2 separate regions of the Homo sapiens genome follow, and region 2 is linked to region 1. A link means that fine-mapping ties the variant in region 1 to the expression of a gene that starts in the linked region. Tissue or cell type: unexposed skin. Region 1 holds a variant in brackets; the other region holds the start of a gene. All regions are shown on one strand. Distances are between the middles of the regions. Region 1 overlaps NUP210 (nucleoporin 210). Region 2 holds the start of NUP210 (nucleoporin 210).

The links. PIP is the estimated chance that this variant, and not a neighbour inherited with it, causes the effect.
Region 2: NUP210 starts here. The variant in region 1 is fine-mapped to the expression of NUP210 in unexposed skin (GTEx, PIP 0.97).

Annotation. Positions count from the first base shown.
Region 1 is chr3:13,383,163-13,391,753 of GRCh38, reverse strand. It overlaps NUP210 (nucleoporin 210), which reads left to right. Exons shown (of 40, transcript NM_024923.4): 4 at 447-543; 5 at 3,301-3,451; 6 at 5,347-5,479. Among named protein-coding and RNA genes, the nearest start is that of NUP210, 33 kb to the left of the region's middle. RefSeq lists enhancers at 358-916, 2,720-3,220. The variant T/C (reference allele first, on the strand shown) is at 4,284.
Region 2 is chr3:13,416,091-13,424,681 of GRCh38, reverse strand. NUP210 (nucleoporin 210) reads left to right here and starts at 4,360. Exons shown (of 40, transcript NM_024923.4): 1 at 4,360-4,622. The coding sequence starts at 4,456. RefSeq lists silencers at 4,126-4,525, 4,576-5,145 and enhancers at 7,938-8,007, 8,068-8,217.

The sequences.
Region 1 (8,591 bases):
CCTCCACCCTGGGTCCCCTCCCCTGCACAGGGAGGGAGAGGAGTTTACTCCCAGGAAGTGGTGAGCAGGAATGAATGGCCCAGGTTTCCGAGCAGACTCCTAAATTGTAAACCGCTCACAGACGTGCGGGGCAGCAGTGTTATGCACTGCACTGAGCTGGTCCTGCAGTCAAGGGCAGGGAGTCACAGCAGGAAGAGCACAAGCTTTCATCGGACAGCCCTAGGTTCAAATTCTGGCCTCGCCCCCTGGTGGTCACATGACCATGAGTAAGTGTCTTCATTCCTTTCAGCCTCAGTTTCCTCTCCTGACATACAGTTTATGACACCTGCCTGGTGGGTGGTGATGTGGAGTGTGGTTCCTGCATGGGGCAGAAGCTCCCATCACGCCTCCCTCCACCCTGGGAAATTAACTCCATATCTGTCTGCCTCTCCCATCTGCTCTTATAGGGAACACCTTCAGCACTCTGGCTGGACTGGTCTTCGAGTGGACGATTGTGAAGGACTCCGAGGCGGACAGGTTCTCAGACTCCCACAATGCGCTGCGGTAAGGGGTGCCTCTGCTAGGCCTGGCCCCTTTGAAGGGAAGGGGAAAGGGGGACACCTGTGAGCTCCTCACCAGCGGGGGGCTTTCATCTGGGTCATTGAGGAGTCTGGGAGACTCCTAGGATGCCCGTAACATTCCGAGTGTCTGATTGAGGAATGGGATCCACTCACACCATTGTGCGGGAGCCTGGCTGCTTCTGCAGCCCCCAGAGAGTGTCCTGTGAGAAGCTGTCAGAGGCTTGGGATGTCCAGCTGGAGAAATGAGACATGCATGGCTGTCTCAGGGCACAGGGAAAGTGTGGGTGGCCCCAGGCTGCACTTCTGGGGGGCCAGTTAAAGGGCAGCCAGGTTTCGGCTGGGGCACAGGCCAGCTGTGCCGGTGGGTCTCAGGTGGAACAGGCTGAGTCGCCCATATGGCGGTATAGTAAGACCAGTTGTGAGGCGGACACCTTAAGCATCTTGACCTGTGTCATCCTCCTGGCAGCCACATGAGCTTGCGCACCACTGTGCTCTCCATCGAGTAGTTGTGGAGGCTGAGACTTGGAGAGGCCGAGCCGCTTGTCTGAGCTCCGGGAGGACAGAGCTGGAGTCTGAACTCAGATCCGTGGATCTGCACTGTCTCGTGGGAGCCACGGGCCCCAGAGCTATTTACTTGTAGTTAGAAAATGAGCAGTTCAGTTCCTAAGATGCATAAGCCTCCTGTCAATGGCTCACTGCACTGCCACATGTGGGACAGGGCAGGAGCAGAGCCACGCGGGTCCTCTGCCGGTGCTGGTGCAGGTCCCAGGTCTGAGCTTGTATTCCCGACTGTGCCGCCTTCCTCCTGATTTGCCATGTGATTTTTAAAAAGCATGGTCCCTTTTTTAAAGTTGTTTTTGAATCTTTTGAGTCTCCTTTTGCAGCAATTTTAGGCCTGTAGAAAATCTGCCAGTTTAGTCCAAAAAGTGGTCTCCCTCATTCACCTGAGAGCCGGCTGCCAGCCTCATGTCCCGTCACCCTGATGATTTTCATGTGCTTTACGACCATCGGGGCATTGTCCTGCACGGCCACCATGCAGTCATGGCACTAGGAAACGAACACTGTTGCCGGCCGTCTTCAGACCTTACTCGAGTTTGGTCATTTGTCCCAGCTTTATCCTTTTCAGTAAAAAGAAGGATCCCAGCCCCAAGTCACCTGCCGCATGTGTCCTGTTTCTCTTAGTCTCTGTCAGCCTGGGACTGTCTCCCGGGCTTTGACTTTGGACACCACAACGCTTGTGAAGAGGACAGTCTAGTTATCTGTAGAGTGGCCCTTGTTTTGGGTTTGTCTGCTGTTCCCTCACGGCCAGGGTCCGAACGTTGTGTCTTTGGCAGGAACATCACAGAAGTGAGACTCCGCTCTTCCACTTGCCTCTGCGCTTTCTCACCCCTATATAATTATAAGTCCTTTGTCAGGGAGTTTACTGTCTGGTCTTTCATTATGCCATTAAAGTCCTGCTCTGGGCTGTAGGGGATGTTGGGGATGTGGTGGTTCCTCTGTCACAGCCTTCTCCAGGGCTCAGCTTACAGCAACTCCAGGCCGACGTCCTCATGTCCTGACGCCTTTGTGAGCCGAGTTGCCCTTGTGGAGACAGCCTGCTGGACCAGCTCTGTGGGTTCTGGTGTTTTGTAAAACAATGACCATGGGCCAGAGAGTCAGAGACCTGGATTCCAGTCCTGGCTTTGTCGCTTCCTGCCTGTGTCCTTAGCCAGGGAACGTTACCCACCTGAGCCTCAGCCTCCTGCCCTGGGAAACAGAGCTGGAGGGAATCCCGTGCCTGCCTCTGAGGGCCACTGTACAGCTCAGTGGGTTGATCCACTCAGGGCCCCTCTCTGGGCCTGGCACACGCTGGATGTTGAGGGGATGCTGAATCCCTGTCCCCTTCTGACAATACCCCATTCCCCACCCCTTGAGCTTCCAGGCAGCTAGCTCTGCACCTGAGCCAAATGCTAACAGAAATCCCAGATGCCAAGGCGGGTTGGAGCTGGATTGTCCTGGATTTGTAATTTGGCGTGTGACACCTAGAGTAACCAGGCGAGGAAATAAATCACAGTGCGGCCCAGCATTGGCAGATTGCTCTTGTGCAGGGGAACAGTGGGCTCGTTTGTAAATGCAGGCTGAAGTGGGAGGCTGCGTGGGAAGGATCCCTGAAGTCCGCCTGCCCAGCAGCCCACACTCCAGGCTACACCACGTCCCCGACATCTCCCCAAGCTGGGATCCAGGGAGAGTGAGACATGGTGCCGTCTGGTGCCCAGGGCTAGGGGACCAGTCATGGAGAATCGTTCCCCAGAGCTGGGCGCTAGGCCGGGGAGGTTGGACAGGAGCAGGCAGCCTCGGGGAGGTGAGGGTGCTGCTGGCCCTGCTGTGACTGGGCTGTGCTCTTGGGCCTGCTGCCTCATCTCCCGGGCCTCACTGTTCCCATGTGGACTCAGCAGCTGGTCTCGCATGTTAGTATTTACGTCACGTGTGCGTGTGGATAAAATGCAGATTCCCAGGCATCTTGGAGACAAAGCCTGGGCCAGGGGCCAAGTATCTGCATTTTTCACAAGGACTTTGGCAGTTCTGATGTAGGAAGCTGCAGGGCCGTGTCTCTAGGCAGCCCCAGCCCTGACTAGGGGGACACCCCTTATTTCAGCATCAGCCCCAGTGGGAGGTACTGATAGGGAATGCTGTGGTAGATTCTGACAAATCTTGTGTTGGGGTTTGATCAACAAACTTTGACAACGTGCTCCTTTTCCAGAATCCTCACTTTCTTGGAGTCTACGTACATCCCTCCTTCTTACATCTCAGAGATGGAGAAGGCTGCCAAGCAAGGGGACACCATCCTGGTGTCTGGGATGAAGACCGGGAGCTCCAAGCTCAAGGCTCGCATCCAGGAGGCTGTCTACAAGGTGGGCCTGGGGCGCTGGGGTGTCAGTGGGCTTCCTGGGGTGGAATCAGGCTGACGGTACCTGCTTATAGGTACCATCACACCTATAGGCACGTTGAATAGTGGAAGTGAGATGCTGTCCCGTGATTTCAGGATGTGGGTTCATATTTTTATGTGTTTGGTTTGGTTTGTTTGAGCCTCAGCTTACAAAGAAAGGTGGTTGAGGCCCCAGAAAGCATCTCTAGGGGTGCATAGCATTTGCTCATTCTTAGTTTCTAGGGAGGTCCAAGAGCAGGAGGTTTCCAGTAACTCACCTGTTTCCAACTGGTGCCCCCACCGTGCTGGTATAGGGACACTCCCAAGCACTTGGGGCTTTGACAAAACCTGGGGCTCCTGGGTGTCTTCTATGCTGTCTCTCCTTGGGCCCCCATTGGAGCCCTGAGACTGGTGGCCCAGGGATCCTATGTGTAGATCACCTCAACCCCCTGCCCCAGCCGATCCCATGTCTTCCTGGCCTCACCAGCATCCCATTCTTAGGGTAGTGGGGGTATGCCAGAGGAAAGGAGAGTGAGGAGTGGGTCTATCCAACGTCCTGGTTCCTTCTCTGTCCCTGTGGACTAATGTCCACCCAACCAGTGCCTCGTTTTGAGCTGCAACCCTGAGATATTTTTGTTTGCCTAGTGTCTGGAGCACAGGCAGGAACACTGTGGTACTTGGCCTGCCATTTAATTTTGTAAAGTGGCAGACGGAGAAATCCTCTTCTGATTCACTCTCTGTAGTGGGTTTGCTGCATCTGGGAGTCCTGGAAAGTTATGGAAACATGGGGACATGCCCTGTTATAGGGGCTAATCCCG[T/C]AGGACTCTGCAGGTAGTACTTAGAGACAGTTTGCTCCTGTGTAGGGCCCAGGCTGGGATGGGGTACAGCCACACTGCTAAGCTGGAAAGGCAGACTTGCTGTCCTGCCCATAGACATTCAGTGGCCCTCCCTGCCTGCGTGCTGGAAAGCAGCCGCCACAGAGCCCTGCCCATGGTGGTGCCCAATACACTTGTCTGTTTTGGACACACTGAAGATATTAACTAGTTGTTAAGTGAGGAAAGCTGTCAGTTGTGACAGCAGGCTTAAAGGAGAATCCAAAGAGTTGCCACAGGACACCAGGCATGCTGAACTGAACTCAGAAAAATGTAGAATGCCCACACCCACAGGAGGGCAGTCAGCTGCGCCTTCACCTGAGGAAATGTTTTTGTGTTTCTGTGGACAAGAATCATTTGCTGTGTTGTCGCTTTTCTACAATGTACACTGCCATCAAACAGGCCAAAGACAATGAAAGGTGCAGGCCTCTGGAGAATCCAGTACCTAAGGGTGCACTAGACAGGGCACCTAGTGATCTTTCTCCCATTGCGAAGTTGCCCACGGGTTTTCCTGAGGAGGCAGGAGGTCACAGGTCGGGGGTGAAAGGCGGGCAGGGGAAGGGGTCAAGGAATAGCAGCCAAGGCTCATCACAGCATATGCCTCTCCTGCTTTTTATGTTGGCCTGGGGCTTCTCAAGTTCCCTGGACCTTGGGCTTTTGTGTGGAGAGAACTTGAGCTCCCGGTGGCCATAGCATCCCTAGAGTTCACCCTGGCTCTCCTCTTTTACTCCAGTTTAATCATGGTTTCACATAGAGATAAACCATGCACAATGGGCAGTCAGTGTGAGGGCTCAGTCTGGGTAATGCCCTTTTTCTGGGTGCCTGCTATACTTATGGAGCTCCCCTGGGACCTCTGGGTTCTGAAAGTGAGGATTTGGGAATGATATCTTGTTTCTTTCCTCTTAACTTCCCTATTCCCATGTTTAAAACATCTCTTTCTCTTGCTCACACCACCACTTCCCCATTCCCTGTCCGCACCTCACTTTGTCTGCCTTTTCTTTATGCCAAGAATGTACGCCCTGCAGAAGTCAGGCTGCTGATTTTGGAAAACATCCTTCTGAACCCGGCCTATGACGTCTACCTGATGGTGGGAACCTCCATTCACTACAAGGTGCAGAAGATCAGGCAAGGGAAAATTACAGGTGTGTCATTGGCTCTGCCATCATGACAGATGCTTCCTTCCTCCTTTTTTTATTGTGGTTACATACATGTAACAAAATTTACCATCTTAACCATTTTTAAGTGCTCCATCAGGTAGCATCAAGTACATTCACACTCTTCTGCAGCCATCACCATCATCCATCCACAGAACTCGTTCATCTTCCCAAACTGAAGCTCTGCATTGTTAAACACTAACTCCCCTTCACCCTCTCCCAGCCCTTGGCACTCATCACTCTATTTCCTGTCTCTGTGAATGTGACTACTCTGGTTACCTCATGTACGTGGAATCATATAGTATTTATTTTTTTGTAACTGGCTTATATCACTTTTTTCCTAGCCTGATGTCTTCAAGTTTCATCCATGTTGTAGCAAGGGTTGGAATTCCCTTCCCTTTTAAGGCTGAATAGTGCTCCATTGTGTGGATGGATAGACCACATTCTGTTTACCCATTCATCTACCCATTCATCCATCAGCAGACACTTGGGTTGCTTCCACTTTTTGGCCATTGTGAGTAATGCTGCTGTGAACATAGTGAGCAAATATCTGAGTCCCTGCTTTCAAATTCTTTGGGGTATATGCCCTTTCAGTGGCAGCAAGTCCAGAGCTGTGGGCTTTGTGTTTAGCTGGGCTTTGCCCCGGTCTGCAACTGACAACTGAACAAACTTGGACAAGCCACTGCCCTTCTCCAGGGCTGTTTCTCATTGGAGGCTTTGAGGCCTTTCTGCCTGGGCTGTGAGGACAAAATGAATCAATAGGAGTGTAGTTGTACTGTGTACTTGTGTTTAGATAGTGACGGTTCTCAATGGAGCGCCAGTCCTCCTAAGGATCATTATCATTTTGTTCAAAGCTGTGTATGTTTAACATCCAGAGCATAGGACCTGAAGGGTCATGGGCATAAGAGCTCTCAGGTCCAGTCCATCCGAGGGCCTCAGTCAGGTGAGTTTGCCAGGTTGGTAGGTTGGTTCCACCTGTGATACAGGGTGTCACTTAAGAGGCAGGCAGATACACACTTCAGCATAAGAGCAACTTGAGTGGTGTCTCCAGTTGATGGGAGGTGCTGCATTGTTTAAAGTCCTGCTCAACTGAGAGCAGTCACCTGGTTGGTCATTCCTGTGTGGCAGAACGCTTTCTCTCAGGAGGACAAAAAAACTGAAGACAGGCGCTCCTGCCTTTGGGCCCAGTTCTTTCTGGCAAGGGGGTCCTAGTTGAAGAGAAGCAAACTCATGTTTCTTGATTCTGGGCAAGCAGCATCTGCCCTTCAGCAGGATGTCAAGTCAACAGGAGGATGGCCTGCAGTAGGATTTGTAGGAAGCCAAGCGTGGGTGTCCTGGTCAGAGCCCGATGTTTACCTGACTTCAGGGAGGCAGATTCTAGGACAGGGACAGTCCAAGATGTGGCTTTCTGAGACTCTGAAAGGGGAGGAGGCTCCAAGATAGAGTTCTGAGGACAGCAGCCTAAGGAAGAATGCAAAGGGGAAGCGTGTTGAAAGGCCAGAGGGCACAAACAGGAGGTCTCAGAAATATAAAATTATCCATGAACACTGATCAAGAAATGGCACTGCGGCCTGAAGGAAGACGCTTGGAGAGCCTAGTCACTGCTGACAGCACCTAACCATGACTGAACATTTCCTCAGTGTTGGGCAGTTGTAAGTGCTTTTCTTTTTAAAGTTACTTTATTTTATTTTTTAGAGACTTGGTCTTGCTATGTTGACCAGTCTGATCTCAAACTGCTGGCCTCAAGCCATCCTCCTGCCTCATTTCTTCTGAGTAGCTGGGACTACAGTTGTGTACCTGGATATAACCCAACAGCTCTATGAGGTAGATTTCATTAATACCCTGTTTCATACATGAGGAAAACTGAGGCATAGAAGACCTGAAGCTCACAAAACTGTTGGACTCCTTGGCCTTAATCACCCCTGTAGGATCAATTGGAATTTCCCTCTGCCGCTTCTCCCCAAAGGAAACCCAGAAAAAAGCTAATTATAACAACAGGGCCGGCCGGGCGTGGTGGCTCACGCCCATAATCCCAGCACTTTGGGAGGCTGAGGCGGGCGGATCACGAGGTCAGGGGTTCGAGACCAGCCTGACCAACATGGTGAAACCCCGCCTCTACTAAAAATACAAAAATTGGCCAGGTGTGGTGGCGCACGCCTGTAATCCCAGCTACTCAAGAGGCTGAGACAGGAGAATCACTTGAACCCAGGAGGTGGAGGTTGCAGTGAGCCGAGATTGCGCCATTGCACTCCAGCCTGGGTGACAGAGCGAGACTGTCTCAAAACAAACAAACAAAAACAGGGCCTTACAGTCTCCCAGGGCAGCGGTGAGGTGGTCCATTTGCATGGGACTCATGGGGCATGAAACTGCCCCAGCTGGGCAAGCAGAGCCCATGTAGTTAAGAGGGGATGGGCTGACTTTAGAAAGAGCTCACTCGGCCAGGCACGGTGGCTCACACCTGTAATCCCAGCATTTTGGGAGGCCGAGGCGGGCGGATCATGAGGTCAGGAAATCGAGACCATCCTGGCTAACATGGTGAAACCCTGTCTCTACTAAAAATACAGAAAAAAATTAGCTGGGCATGGTGGCACACACCTGTAGTCCCAGCTACTCAGGAGGCTGAGGCAGGAGAATTGCTTGAACCCGGGAGGCAGAGGATGTTGCAGTAGCTGAGATCGCACCACTGCACTCCAGCCTGGGCGACAGAGTGAGACTCTGTCTCAAAAAAAAAAAAAAAAAAAAAAAAGAGCTCACTCTAAATTAGCTCAGGTATCACAGCCCAGAGGAACTGCACCTCCCAAGGTACCTAGAAAACTTACGAGCTTGGTCACTGACCTTCCTGCCACAGACATCAAGGAATTGGAGCACATGAAAGATGCCCTGGGACAGGAAAGGAAAGAGGCAGGGCCCACCTCCCTTTCATCATGTCATGAGATGTGAAAGTACTCCAAAAATACACACTCCTGTGCGATTGATGGCACTGGATGCTACTGCAGTAGATTCCAGATGGATGTTTTGGCAAAACTGAGAGGGGCCGAGCTAGCAAAACTTCACTGTGAACAAGACACACCAATGGAAACTCCTAAGTCTTTTAGATGAA
Region 2 (8,591 bases), 33 kb before region 1:
AAACACAAATGTCTACTCCAGAGGTCAAAGGGCAACATTTAAATTCAGGGAGAAAAGGAGAAATGGGGAAGGAAGCCTATAGATTGAAAGAGCCTTAAAAGACATTTCAATCAATTGCAATGTGTGAACTTTACTTATATCCTGATTCTGAAAGTATAAACTGTAAAAAGGTATTATGAATGTATGAGACAGTTGGAAATTTGAACTCTAATAATATTTTATGACCATAAGATTACTGTTAACTTTTTTATGTGTGATAATAGTATTGTGGTTATGTCTATAAAAGGGTCCTTATCTCTTAGCGATACAAACTGAAATACAGACGAAATGACAGGATATCTTGGATTTGTTTCAAAATGAGATAGGGTGGGGCCTGTGGTGACTGCAGAAGCAGCAGAATTGGCTGTGGATTGTGGCCACAGAACTGGACAGTCATGGGGCTTCATTATACCACTGTCTACTCTATGACTCTTTAAGTTTCCCCACTGCAGAATGATTCTTTAAAATTACTGTTTGGGCTGGGCACAGTGGCTCATGGCTGTAATCCCAGCACTTTGGGAGGCCAAGGGGCACAGATCCTTTGAGTCCAGGAGTTCGAGACCAGCCAGGGCAACATGGCGAAACCCTGTCTCTACAAACAAAACAAAACAAAACAAAAAGCAAAAATTAGCTGGATGTGGTGGCACACACCTATAATCCCAGTTACTCAGGAGGTTGAGATGGGAGGATGGCTGGAGCCCAGGAGGTAGAGGCTGTGGTGAGCTGAGATTGCACCACTGCACTCCAGCCTGGGTGACAGAGTGAGAGACCCTGTCTCAAAAATAAATAAATAAATGAAATACAAATAAAAATTACTGTTGTCACAAAAAGATGGTGGGTAGGCTCTAAAAGGACAACGTCCCCCTAGGAAAAAGTTAATTGCCTTGAAAAATCTCTCCATACTTGTATGCCCAAGGAGAAAGGTCAAGATTAGTGTGGTTTGTCCTTCACACTGTCTTGTGTTTGGTTATCTTCCCACTGAAGGCCCTGAGAGCAGGCCTTGGGCTCTCAGCCTTTAGCAAGAAATAGTATCCTGCGGTAATTTGAAGGCATTCTTTTGTTTCGCTGTATTTATTTTATGGCTACTTCTATTATATTTTGCAAACTGATAATGGCTTTTTATTAACAGAAGAGACAAAGTTTGCTTCTTAAGTAAATATATGTAAACACTTTGATTTAAAGACAGGAAATAACAGCACAAGTGGCACTCAGATAGATATTATTTTTTAAAATGTTTTAGGGTGGTAGAAAGTAACAGAAGTTTGGGAGACCCTGATGTGGGTCAGGAGACATTTTCCTATCTGGTTTTAGTTATCAGGTGGGTAACCGGCTCACTCAAATCTGTGGTCTCTTCCAGCCCAGAGGGTCTCTGTGCCAGGACAGAAGGCTGTGCTCAGGCCATTGTCCATGGCTGGCTCCCTGCATCTCAGATAAACACTGACACCCAAAGAAGGGGCCCAATGCCAGGGAGTGGAAACAGCCCACAGAGAAGGTGGGGGTGGCCCCTACACATGGACCCCTGGCTTGGCCCCAAATACCATCTCATACCAGGTTTGTAGGCAAGTGAAATGGGGTCTGGGGGCAAGTTTAAGGACAACGTAAAGGGATAAAATCTCAGATGGAAAATGTTTTACCCATCATTTTGTTGCCTTTTTTTTTTTGAGATGGAGTTTCTTGTTGCACATGCTGTAGTGCAGTGGCTTGATCCCAGCTCACTGCAACCTCCACCTCCCAGGTTCAAGTGATTCTCCTGCCTCAGCCTCCCCAGTAGCTGGGATTACAGATGCATGCCACCATGTCTGGCGACTTTTTGTATTTTTAGTAGAGATAGGGTTTTGCCATGTTGGCCAGGCTGGTCTCAAACTCCTGACCTCAGGTGATCTGCCCACCTTGGCCTCCCAAAGTGCTGGGATTACAGGTGACAGCCACCGCACCCGGCCCATTTTGTTGTCTTCCATGGATTGTTTTCTGCTGGGAAAATTTCCTGATTGCCTTAAATCACCTGAAACGTAGTTGTTTAGCAAGCTGTGTCCACTCAGATGTGTTTTGCTGGGCCTGTTTGTATGATTCTTTTTTTGAGATAATTGTAGATTACATGCAGTTGTAACAAATAACAAGAGAGATGCTATAATATGTGCCCTTTACCCCGTTTCCACTAGTAGACATCTTGCAAAACTATGGGATAATATCACAACCAGGAAATGGACATTGATACAGTCAAGCCACCAAGCACTTCCATCCCAGGGACTCCTCATGTTGACCTTTTATAGCCACATCACTTCCTATGCCACGCCGCCCCTGACCCCACAATCACTCACCTGCTCTATACTTCTATAATTTTGCCAACTCAATAATCTTGTATAAAAGCAAGTTTACAGTATGTAACCTTTTGTGCTTTTGTAGTGTTTGTTTTCCAGTCCGTATAATTCCCTGGAGCTTCATCCAAGATGGATGTATTAGCAGTTCATTTCTTTTTTTGCTGAATAATATTCCATGGCATAGATGTGCCACAGTATTTAATCATCACCCATGAAGGACCTCTGTGCTGTTTCCAGTTTGGGCCTATTTGATAAAGCTGCTATGAATGTTTTATGTACAGGTGATTGTGGGAACATCACTTTTCATTTCTCTAGGATATATGTCCAAGAGTGAGATTTACCTGCCTCGCAAGACATATGTATATGTATGTATATGTGCCATATTTCATATATACATATGTGTGTGCATGTATGTGTATGTGTGTGCATGTGTGCCATGTTTTATATATATATATGCTTGTTTATGCATAAAATTTCTCTGGATGTATACTCAAGTGGGAAACACTCATTGCCTGTAGGGAAGGGTATTGGGTGATGGGGAGGGAGAGGAATCACTTTCACTTGGAACCCTTTTGAGCCTAAGTTTCAACCATCTGTCTGGATTACCTGTTGGAAAACAAATCAATCTTGTGCAACCCAGAAGACACCCACAGACTTCCTCACAAATACCCTCTGAGGCTGCCTTTTCCGCGCAAGTCTGTTTTTTGTTTCTTCAAAGGGAGCCCGTTGGAATTCCCCTCCCAGAGCACCTGGTTCCACACAGGGCCGACCCTCACCCCCTTAGTTCTGGTTATCTCCAGAGATTTCCCCCAACACACACATTCCCTGGTCTAGGGCCCTCAGGCTTCGAGGGTGACCCCAAACACCCCGCATCACCATCCAAAAGCCCCATGATCCCTGAGGGGCAGGCTCAGCCTATGCGGGCCTCGCTGAAGCCCAGTGCGGTGTCTATGCCCAACCCAGGGGCCGCCGCCTCCAAAAAGCCTTCCTAGCCTTACTGACATTTATCCTCTCCTTCCTGGTCACCCAGTGGCATCGTTGTGTGTCTTCCTGGTTACAGTCAGCATCCACTTCCTGCACTCCTCAGACAGCCGGCCAGTGCACCCTCACCCCACCCTTTCCTGACCTCCCGCTAGGCTGGGCCTTCTCTGCAAGGCTAGATTCATATTTTAGCGGCACCAAGCAGTCAGGTGCCTGCTGACGCATGCCTTCATGCAATTCACGACAGACAGCTAAAAGCCACAGAGCACAGCGCGGAATCTAAGGCCTTCCATTGGTGTGCAGGTGGATTCCGCGGTGCTAAACTTTCTTTTGTGGGTGTGGGGGCCGTGGAGGGGGTTGTGCTCTGGCAGCGTTGGCGCCCTAAATGACCTATAGGTAACCTCTAATGGCTTCCGCAGGGGGTGCAGTGCGGAGGACAAGAGCTTGGGGCTCTCTGGCTGAGTGATCTGGGGGCCATTCAACCGGTTTTTTCCTGGAGAAATGGGAATCTTAAGGCCTCTCTGGAAAGGGTGTGAGGGGGTCGAGGGGGAGCGGGCCCCGGGCCTTCAGCGCTTCAGCAGGTGGCTTCCCTTTGCGAGCCCGGGGTCCCTCTTCTGGGAAGCATGGGCTGGGACAAGGCAGGCGCCGGTTTTCTGCATCCCAAATGTCCTGGGGCATGTGTCCCTTCCTTGCTGACCGTGGGTCCGGGCCAGAGCGCAAGGTCCAAAGCCGGCGGCTTGGCTCCACCGCCAGGGGCAAATACCAGGGCGGGATGCGTGCTGCGGGGCGCCCCGGGGGCTCCCCCTTGGGACTTCTAGGGTCCAGGGGTCCCCGCGGGCGCGCCCCAAGCCTTCTCCCTCAGCTCCGGGGGCCCGGGCGCGCGCCCATCCCCCAGCCCCGCGTCCCTGCGCGAGGGCCGGGCTGGGGGTGGGGTCGCCGCGAGCTCGGCCCCCAGAGTTCCCGCGCTCAGGCCCAGGAAGCGGCGGCCGCCGACGGCCCTCGCCCCGCCCCCGCGCTCATCACCTGCTGGCCTGGCGCGCGCGCGGGCGGGAGCGGAGGGCAACGGGGCGGCGCGGGCGGCCGGGCGCAGGGTCGCGGGAGGTGACGCGCGGCGAGGATGGCGGCGCGGGGCCGGGGGCTGCTGCTGCTGACGCTGTCGGTGCTGTTGGCGGCGGGCCCCTCCGCCGCTGCGGCCAAGCTCAACATCCCCAAAGTGCTGCTGCCCTTCACGCGGGCCACGCGCGTTAACTTCACGCTGGAGGCCTCGGAGGGCTGCTACCGCTGGTGAGGCGCGCGGCCGGGCCGGGCGGGCGCCGTGGGCCGGGCTGGGCCTTCGCGCTGAGAGGCTGGGCGGGCGCCGGGAGGCCGGCAGAGCCGGCAGGTGCGCGGCGCGCTCTCGCTGGGCGCTAGGCTGCAGCACTCGGAGCGGCGGGTGCGCGTGGGTCGCCACCACTGCTCATGTCATGGCGCCGTCCGGGCCTCCGCGCCGCTGAGGCGCGAGCAGAGCGGGCGCAGCCTGGCGGCCGTGACCCGCGTGTTCTGGGTTGTGCGGGAGGAGGGGTGGCCTGGGGAGCGGCGTCTGGGACCGCAGGGCCCAAGCCGGCCGGGCCCGAGCCGGCCTGACCCGGGAGGGGGCGCCGGGGCAGCTGGGCCGCACTTCCCTTGAGTCTGGGACCCCAGCTCGGGTTTGTCTGTGACCGCCCTCGCCCTGGCGTGGGAAGTGAGTCTGTGAAACGAAGCGCAGCGCCTAGCGTCGCGGGGAGGAACGGAGACCCTGGAGGAAAGGAGTTTTGGAGGGAAGCCCAGGGGCCGCTTTACAGAGGCGAAGTGAGACGAGGCAGGCCGGCGCTTCCCCTCAGGCTGCCTCGGCGCGGGTCCTGATGCTCAGGGCATTTCCATCACCCTCCCTCTCGGGTTGGGAGTTCTCCAAGGGGTCGGATGCGGAGTGTGACCCTGTGGAACCACAGGGACCCATGAAACCAGAGACCGACACTGACAGGGCGGTGCAGTCCAGCCCTTCCATTTTGCAGACCAGGGGAAATGGAGCTCCTGCCCCTGGCAAGGCTGCGTGGGCACGACTGAGCGCCCTTAGCTTCCCAGCCCAGCCGTCCTAGGGGTGAAAAGATGGGCTTCCGCCCTTCCCACCCCCAGGATGCTCAGTAGTTGCTCCCTTTATTTCTGTTTCAAGACTGGGTCAAGGTTGAGGCAGAACGGGGTGTGACCACGTGACAGCCATGTGTGTAAGCCTGGACATGTGTGTGTCAAGCCTGTTTGAGTATTAGTCTGTGCGTGTATGTAAGTGTGATGCCCGAAGCTCAGACCAGCCAGCTTTCTCTGTTGCTTGCACTATTTGCCCTATTTCTTTCTTTCTTTTTTTTTTTTTTTTTTTTTTTTTGAGACGGAGTTTTGCTTTGTCGTCCATGCTGACGTGCAGTGGTGCGATTTCGGCTCACTGCAACCTCCACCTCCCGGGTTCAAGCGATTCTCCCGCCTCGTAGCTGGGATTACAGGTGCAGGCCACCTGGCTAATTTTGTTTGTTTGTTTGTTTGTTTTTAGAGTGCACTCCAGCCCTTGTTGCCCAGGCTGGAGTGCAATGGCGCGATCTCTGTCCACTGCAACTTCCGCCTCCCCGGTTCAAGCGATTCTCCTGCCTCAGCCTCCCGAGTAGCTGGGATTACAGGCGCCCGCCACAACACCCAGCTAGTTTTTTGCATTTTAGTAGAGACGGGGTTTCACTATGTTGGCCAGGCTGGTCTCAAACTCTGGATTCACTGTGTTGGCCAGGCTGGTCTTGAACTCCTCAAGACCAAGGAGAACTCCTCAAGCGATCCACCTGCCTCAGCTTCCCAAAATGCTGAGATTACAGGCGTGAGCCACCATGCCTGGCTTGTCTGGCCAATTTTTGTATTTTTAGTAAAGATGGGGTTTCACTATGTTGGTCAGGCTGGTCTCGAACTCCTGACCTCAAGTGATCCCGCCGCCTCTGCCTCCCAAAGTGCTGGGATTACAGGCGTGAGCCACTGCACCCGGCCTGCCCTATTTCTTTTTTGAAGGTCTCCTTCCTGAAATCAAGACGTACTAGGTCAGCCCATTGCATTTTGGTTTTAGTGCTTTATGCACCTGGAGGCTCCTATTTCTGGCCTGATGCCAGAGGCTGAACTTGGGCATTAGGTTTTCTGTATCCCAGTCTAAGGCCTAGTCTTGTGTGGGAAAATCAGCTGTTAGTCAATACTGTGGCGGGGATACATGCTCATTCTCTTGTTGAAGCTGTCTGTCCTCTCAGTATGTGGGCAAGAAAGAGGAAACTGGTTATTAAAAACAGCTGGCTTCAAGTGAATCCCTTTGGATATATTTGTGTGTTACTTTCTCTGAGATTCTATAGCTGTACTTTTTTCTTTTTCTAAACTAACAACACTTTTTTCCCCCCCAACATCATTTTCTTTTCTGAGAGGAGCTGAAGGGTGTTGGTGGATTTTAATTTACTTGGTAGGAAAAAGGGAAAAAACATTCTTAATCTCTGATGCATCAGAGAAGTGCTAAGTACCTTATAACGTGTTTGGCGTTGATCTGTAGTTTGTATTGCAGATGTGTGACTGCAGATGTGTGACTGCTATTCAAAGTGTCTTCTCAGAGGTGTTTGGAAATTGTGATTCCCCCTTAACTTGACAGGAAGACATTCTGTCAATCAAGCATTGAGAATATTTTCTTTATTTTTAGTATTGCTGTTCCTAGTGTAGTCGTCTATTGCTGCAGTTTTGAAGAATCTGCTCTGGAGATTTTAAGAGCTGGCCTATAGACATATATCCACAGTCCTCTAAACCTGGGAGGAACATTACCTCTTCATCCAGAAAGTTCATTGTTAAGTCTCTCAGACGAAAAAGAAAATGAGAATTCTGCCAGACCCTGTGGGAACATTTGCACATCCATTGAATTTGCAGCTGAGCTCTAAGTTTACAGAAATCACTGTGTGTGCCTGAGCCAACAGCTTCATGTTTACTTTTCCTATTTTTTTTATTTTATAACATCAAAATTGGACAGTTTTCGGGCCAGGGGAACCTTAGAGGTCACCTAGTTTAAACAGCCTGTGTTTCATATAGGAAAACCTGAGCTCCAGAAGGGGAAGTGATCTCTGGGAAGTCTTGTAGCGATGGACACTGAGTTGGAGCAGGAGCTGCTGGGACCCCTCCCTGTCCCACGCCATTAGACCTGGGGACTGGCAGCCTCTGGCTAATTTGCCAGGCTCTAATTCTCTCCAACTGCACCCAGCCAGCACTGGTTTTGTGACAAGTTCCTGATTCCTTCTAGATATTTTGCATTATTGAAAGTGTTCCATAAAGTATATTACATTTGCTCCTTTTAAAGGTATATACAAAACGACCTCATATCAAAAACTGGGAGAACAGACGAAAAAGAAATCATGCCATAATCTTCCAGCTGTAATACAATCACAGGCAGCATTTTGGTTTCTTTTCGGTCACTTATGTTTCCTCTCCTAGCTCCTTTCTTACATTGCCTTGAACCTGGTTATTTGGGCACCTCGGGAACCTCCTCCCCTGCCAACACTGGCTAGCACTGAAGCCCAAGCACTGCTCTGTTGCTTCTTCCTGAGGGCTCCGTGTCTGAGCACCTTTCTGCTGGGTTGAAGTTGCCTCCTCATTGATTCTTTCCCTGTCATGGAGTCCCAGGGTATTCTGGGTGCTCCAGCAAGGGGGCGCTGTCTTGGAGAAAGTGAGTGGCTCAGATTGGTTTCCCAGGGGTGGAGCCTGAGGCAGGATTCTGCTGCCCTAGTTTACAGAGAAAGTGCTCTGTTGGGCAGCTGGATAGGGAAGGGAGGCTGCCTGCAGGTTGTCCTGCCTTCAGGCGAAGAGACCAAGCTTTGAGCTTTTGTACCCACTGTCAGGCAGCCATTGGTTCCCCTGGGGAAGGGGATGTTGTGCGACCTCCCGGGCCTCTGGCGGAGACACTCTGTTTTGAATTACGACCTGCAGCTCCCCTGGCTGAGGTGGGGAGGGGATGTGGACCTGCCTGGTGAACAACATCCAGACACAGCATGCACAGTGACTGCCATACCAAGCTGTTCACAGACTTCTCCTTTCCTGCCCCTGACAGTCTCTCCTGGGCACCTTGGAGCCATCTAACACGTGTGCCAGGCCTGGTCCTGCACCAGGGTACACCCTCTCTTATGTGGTCTGGGGCACTTCTCAGTCACAGGTGTAAGGATTCTCAAACAGGTAGATGGGAGTCCTTTCAGG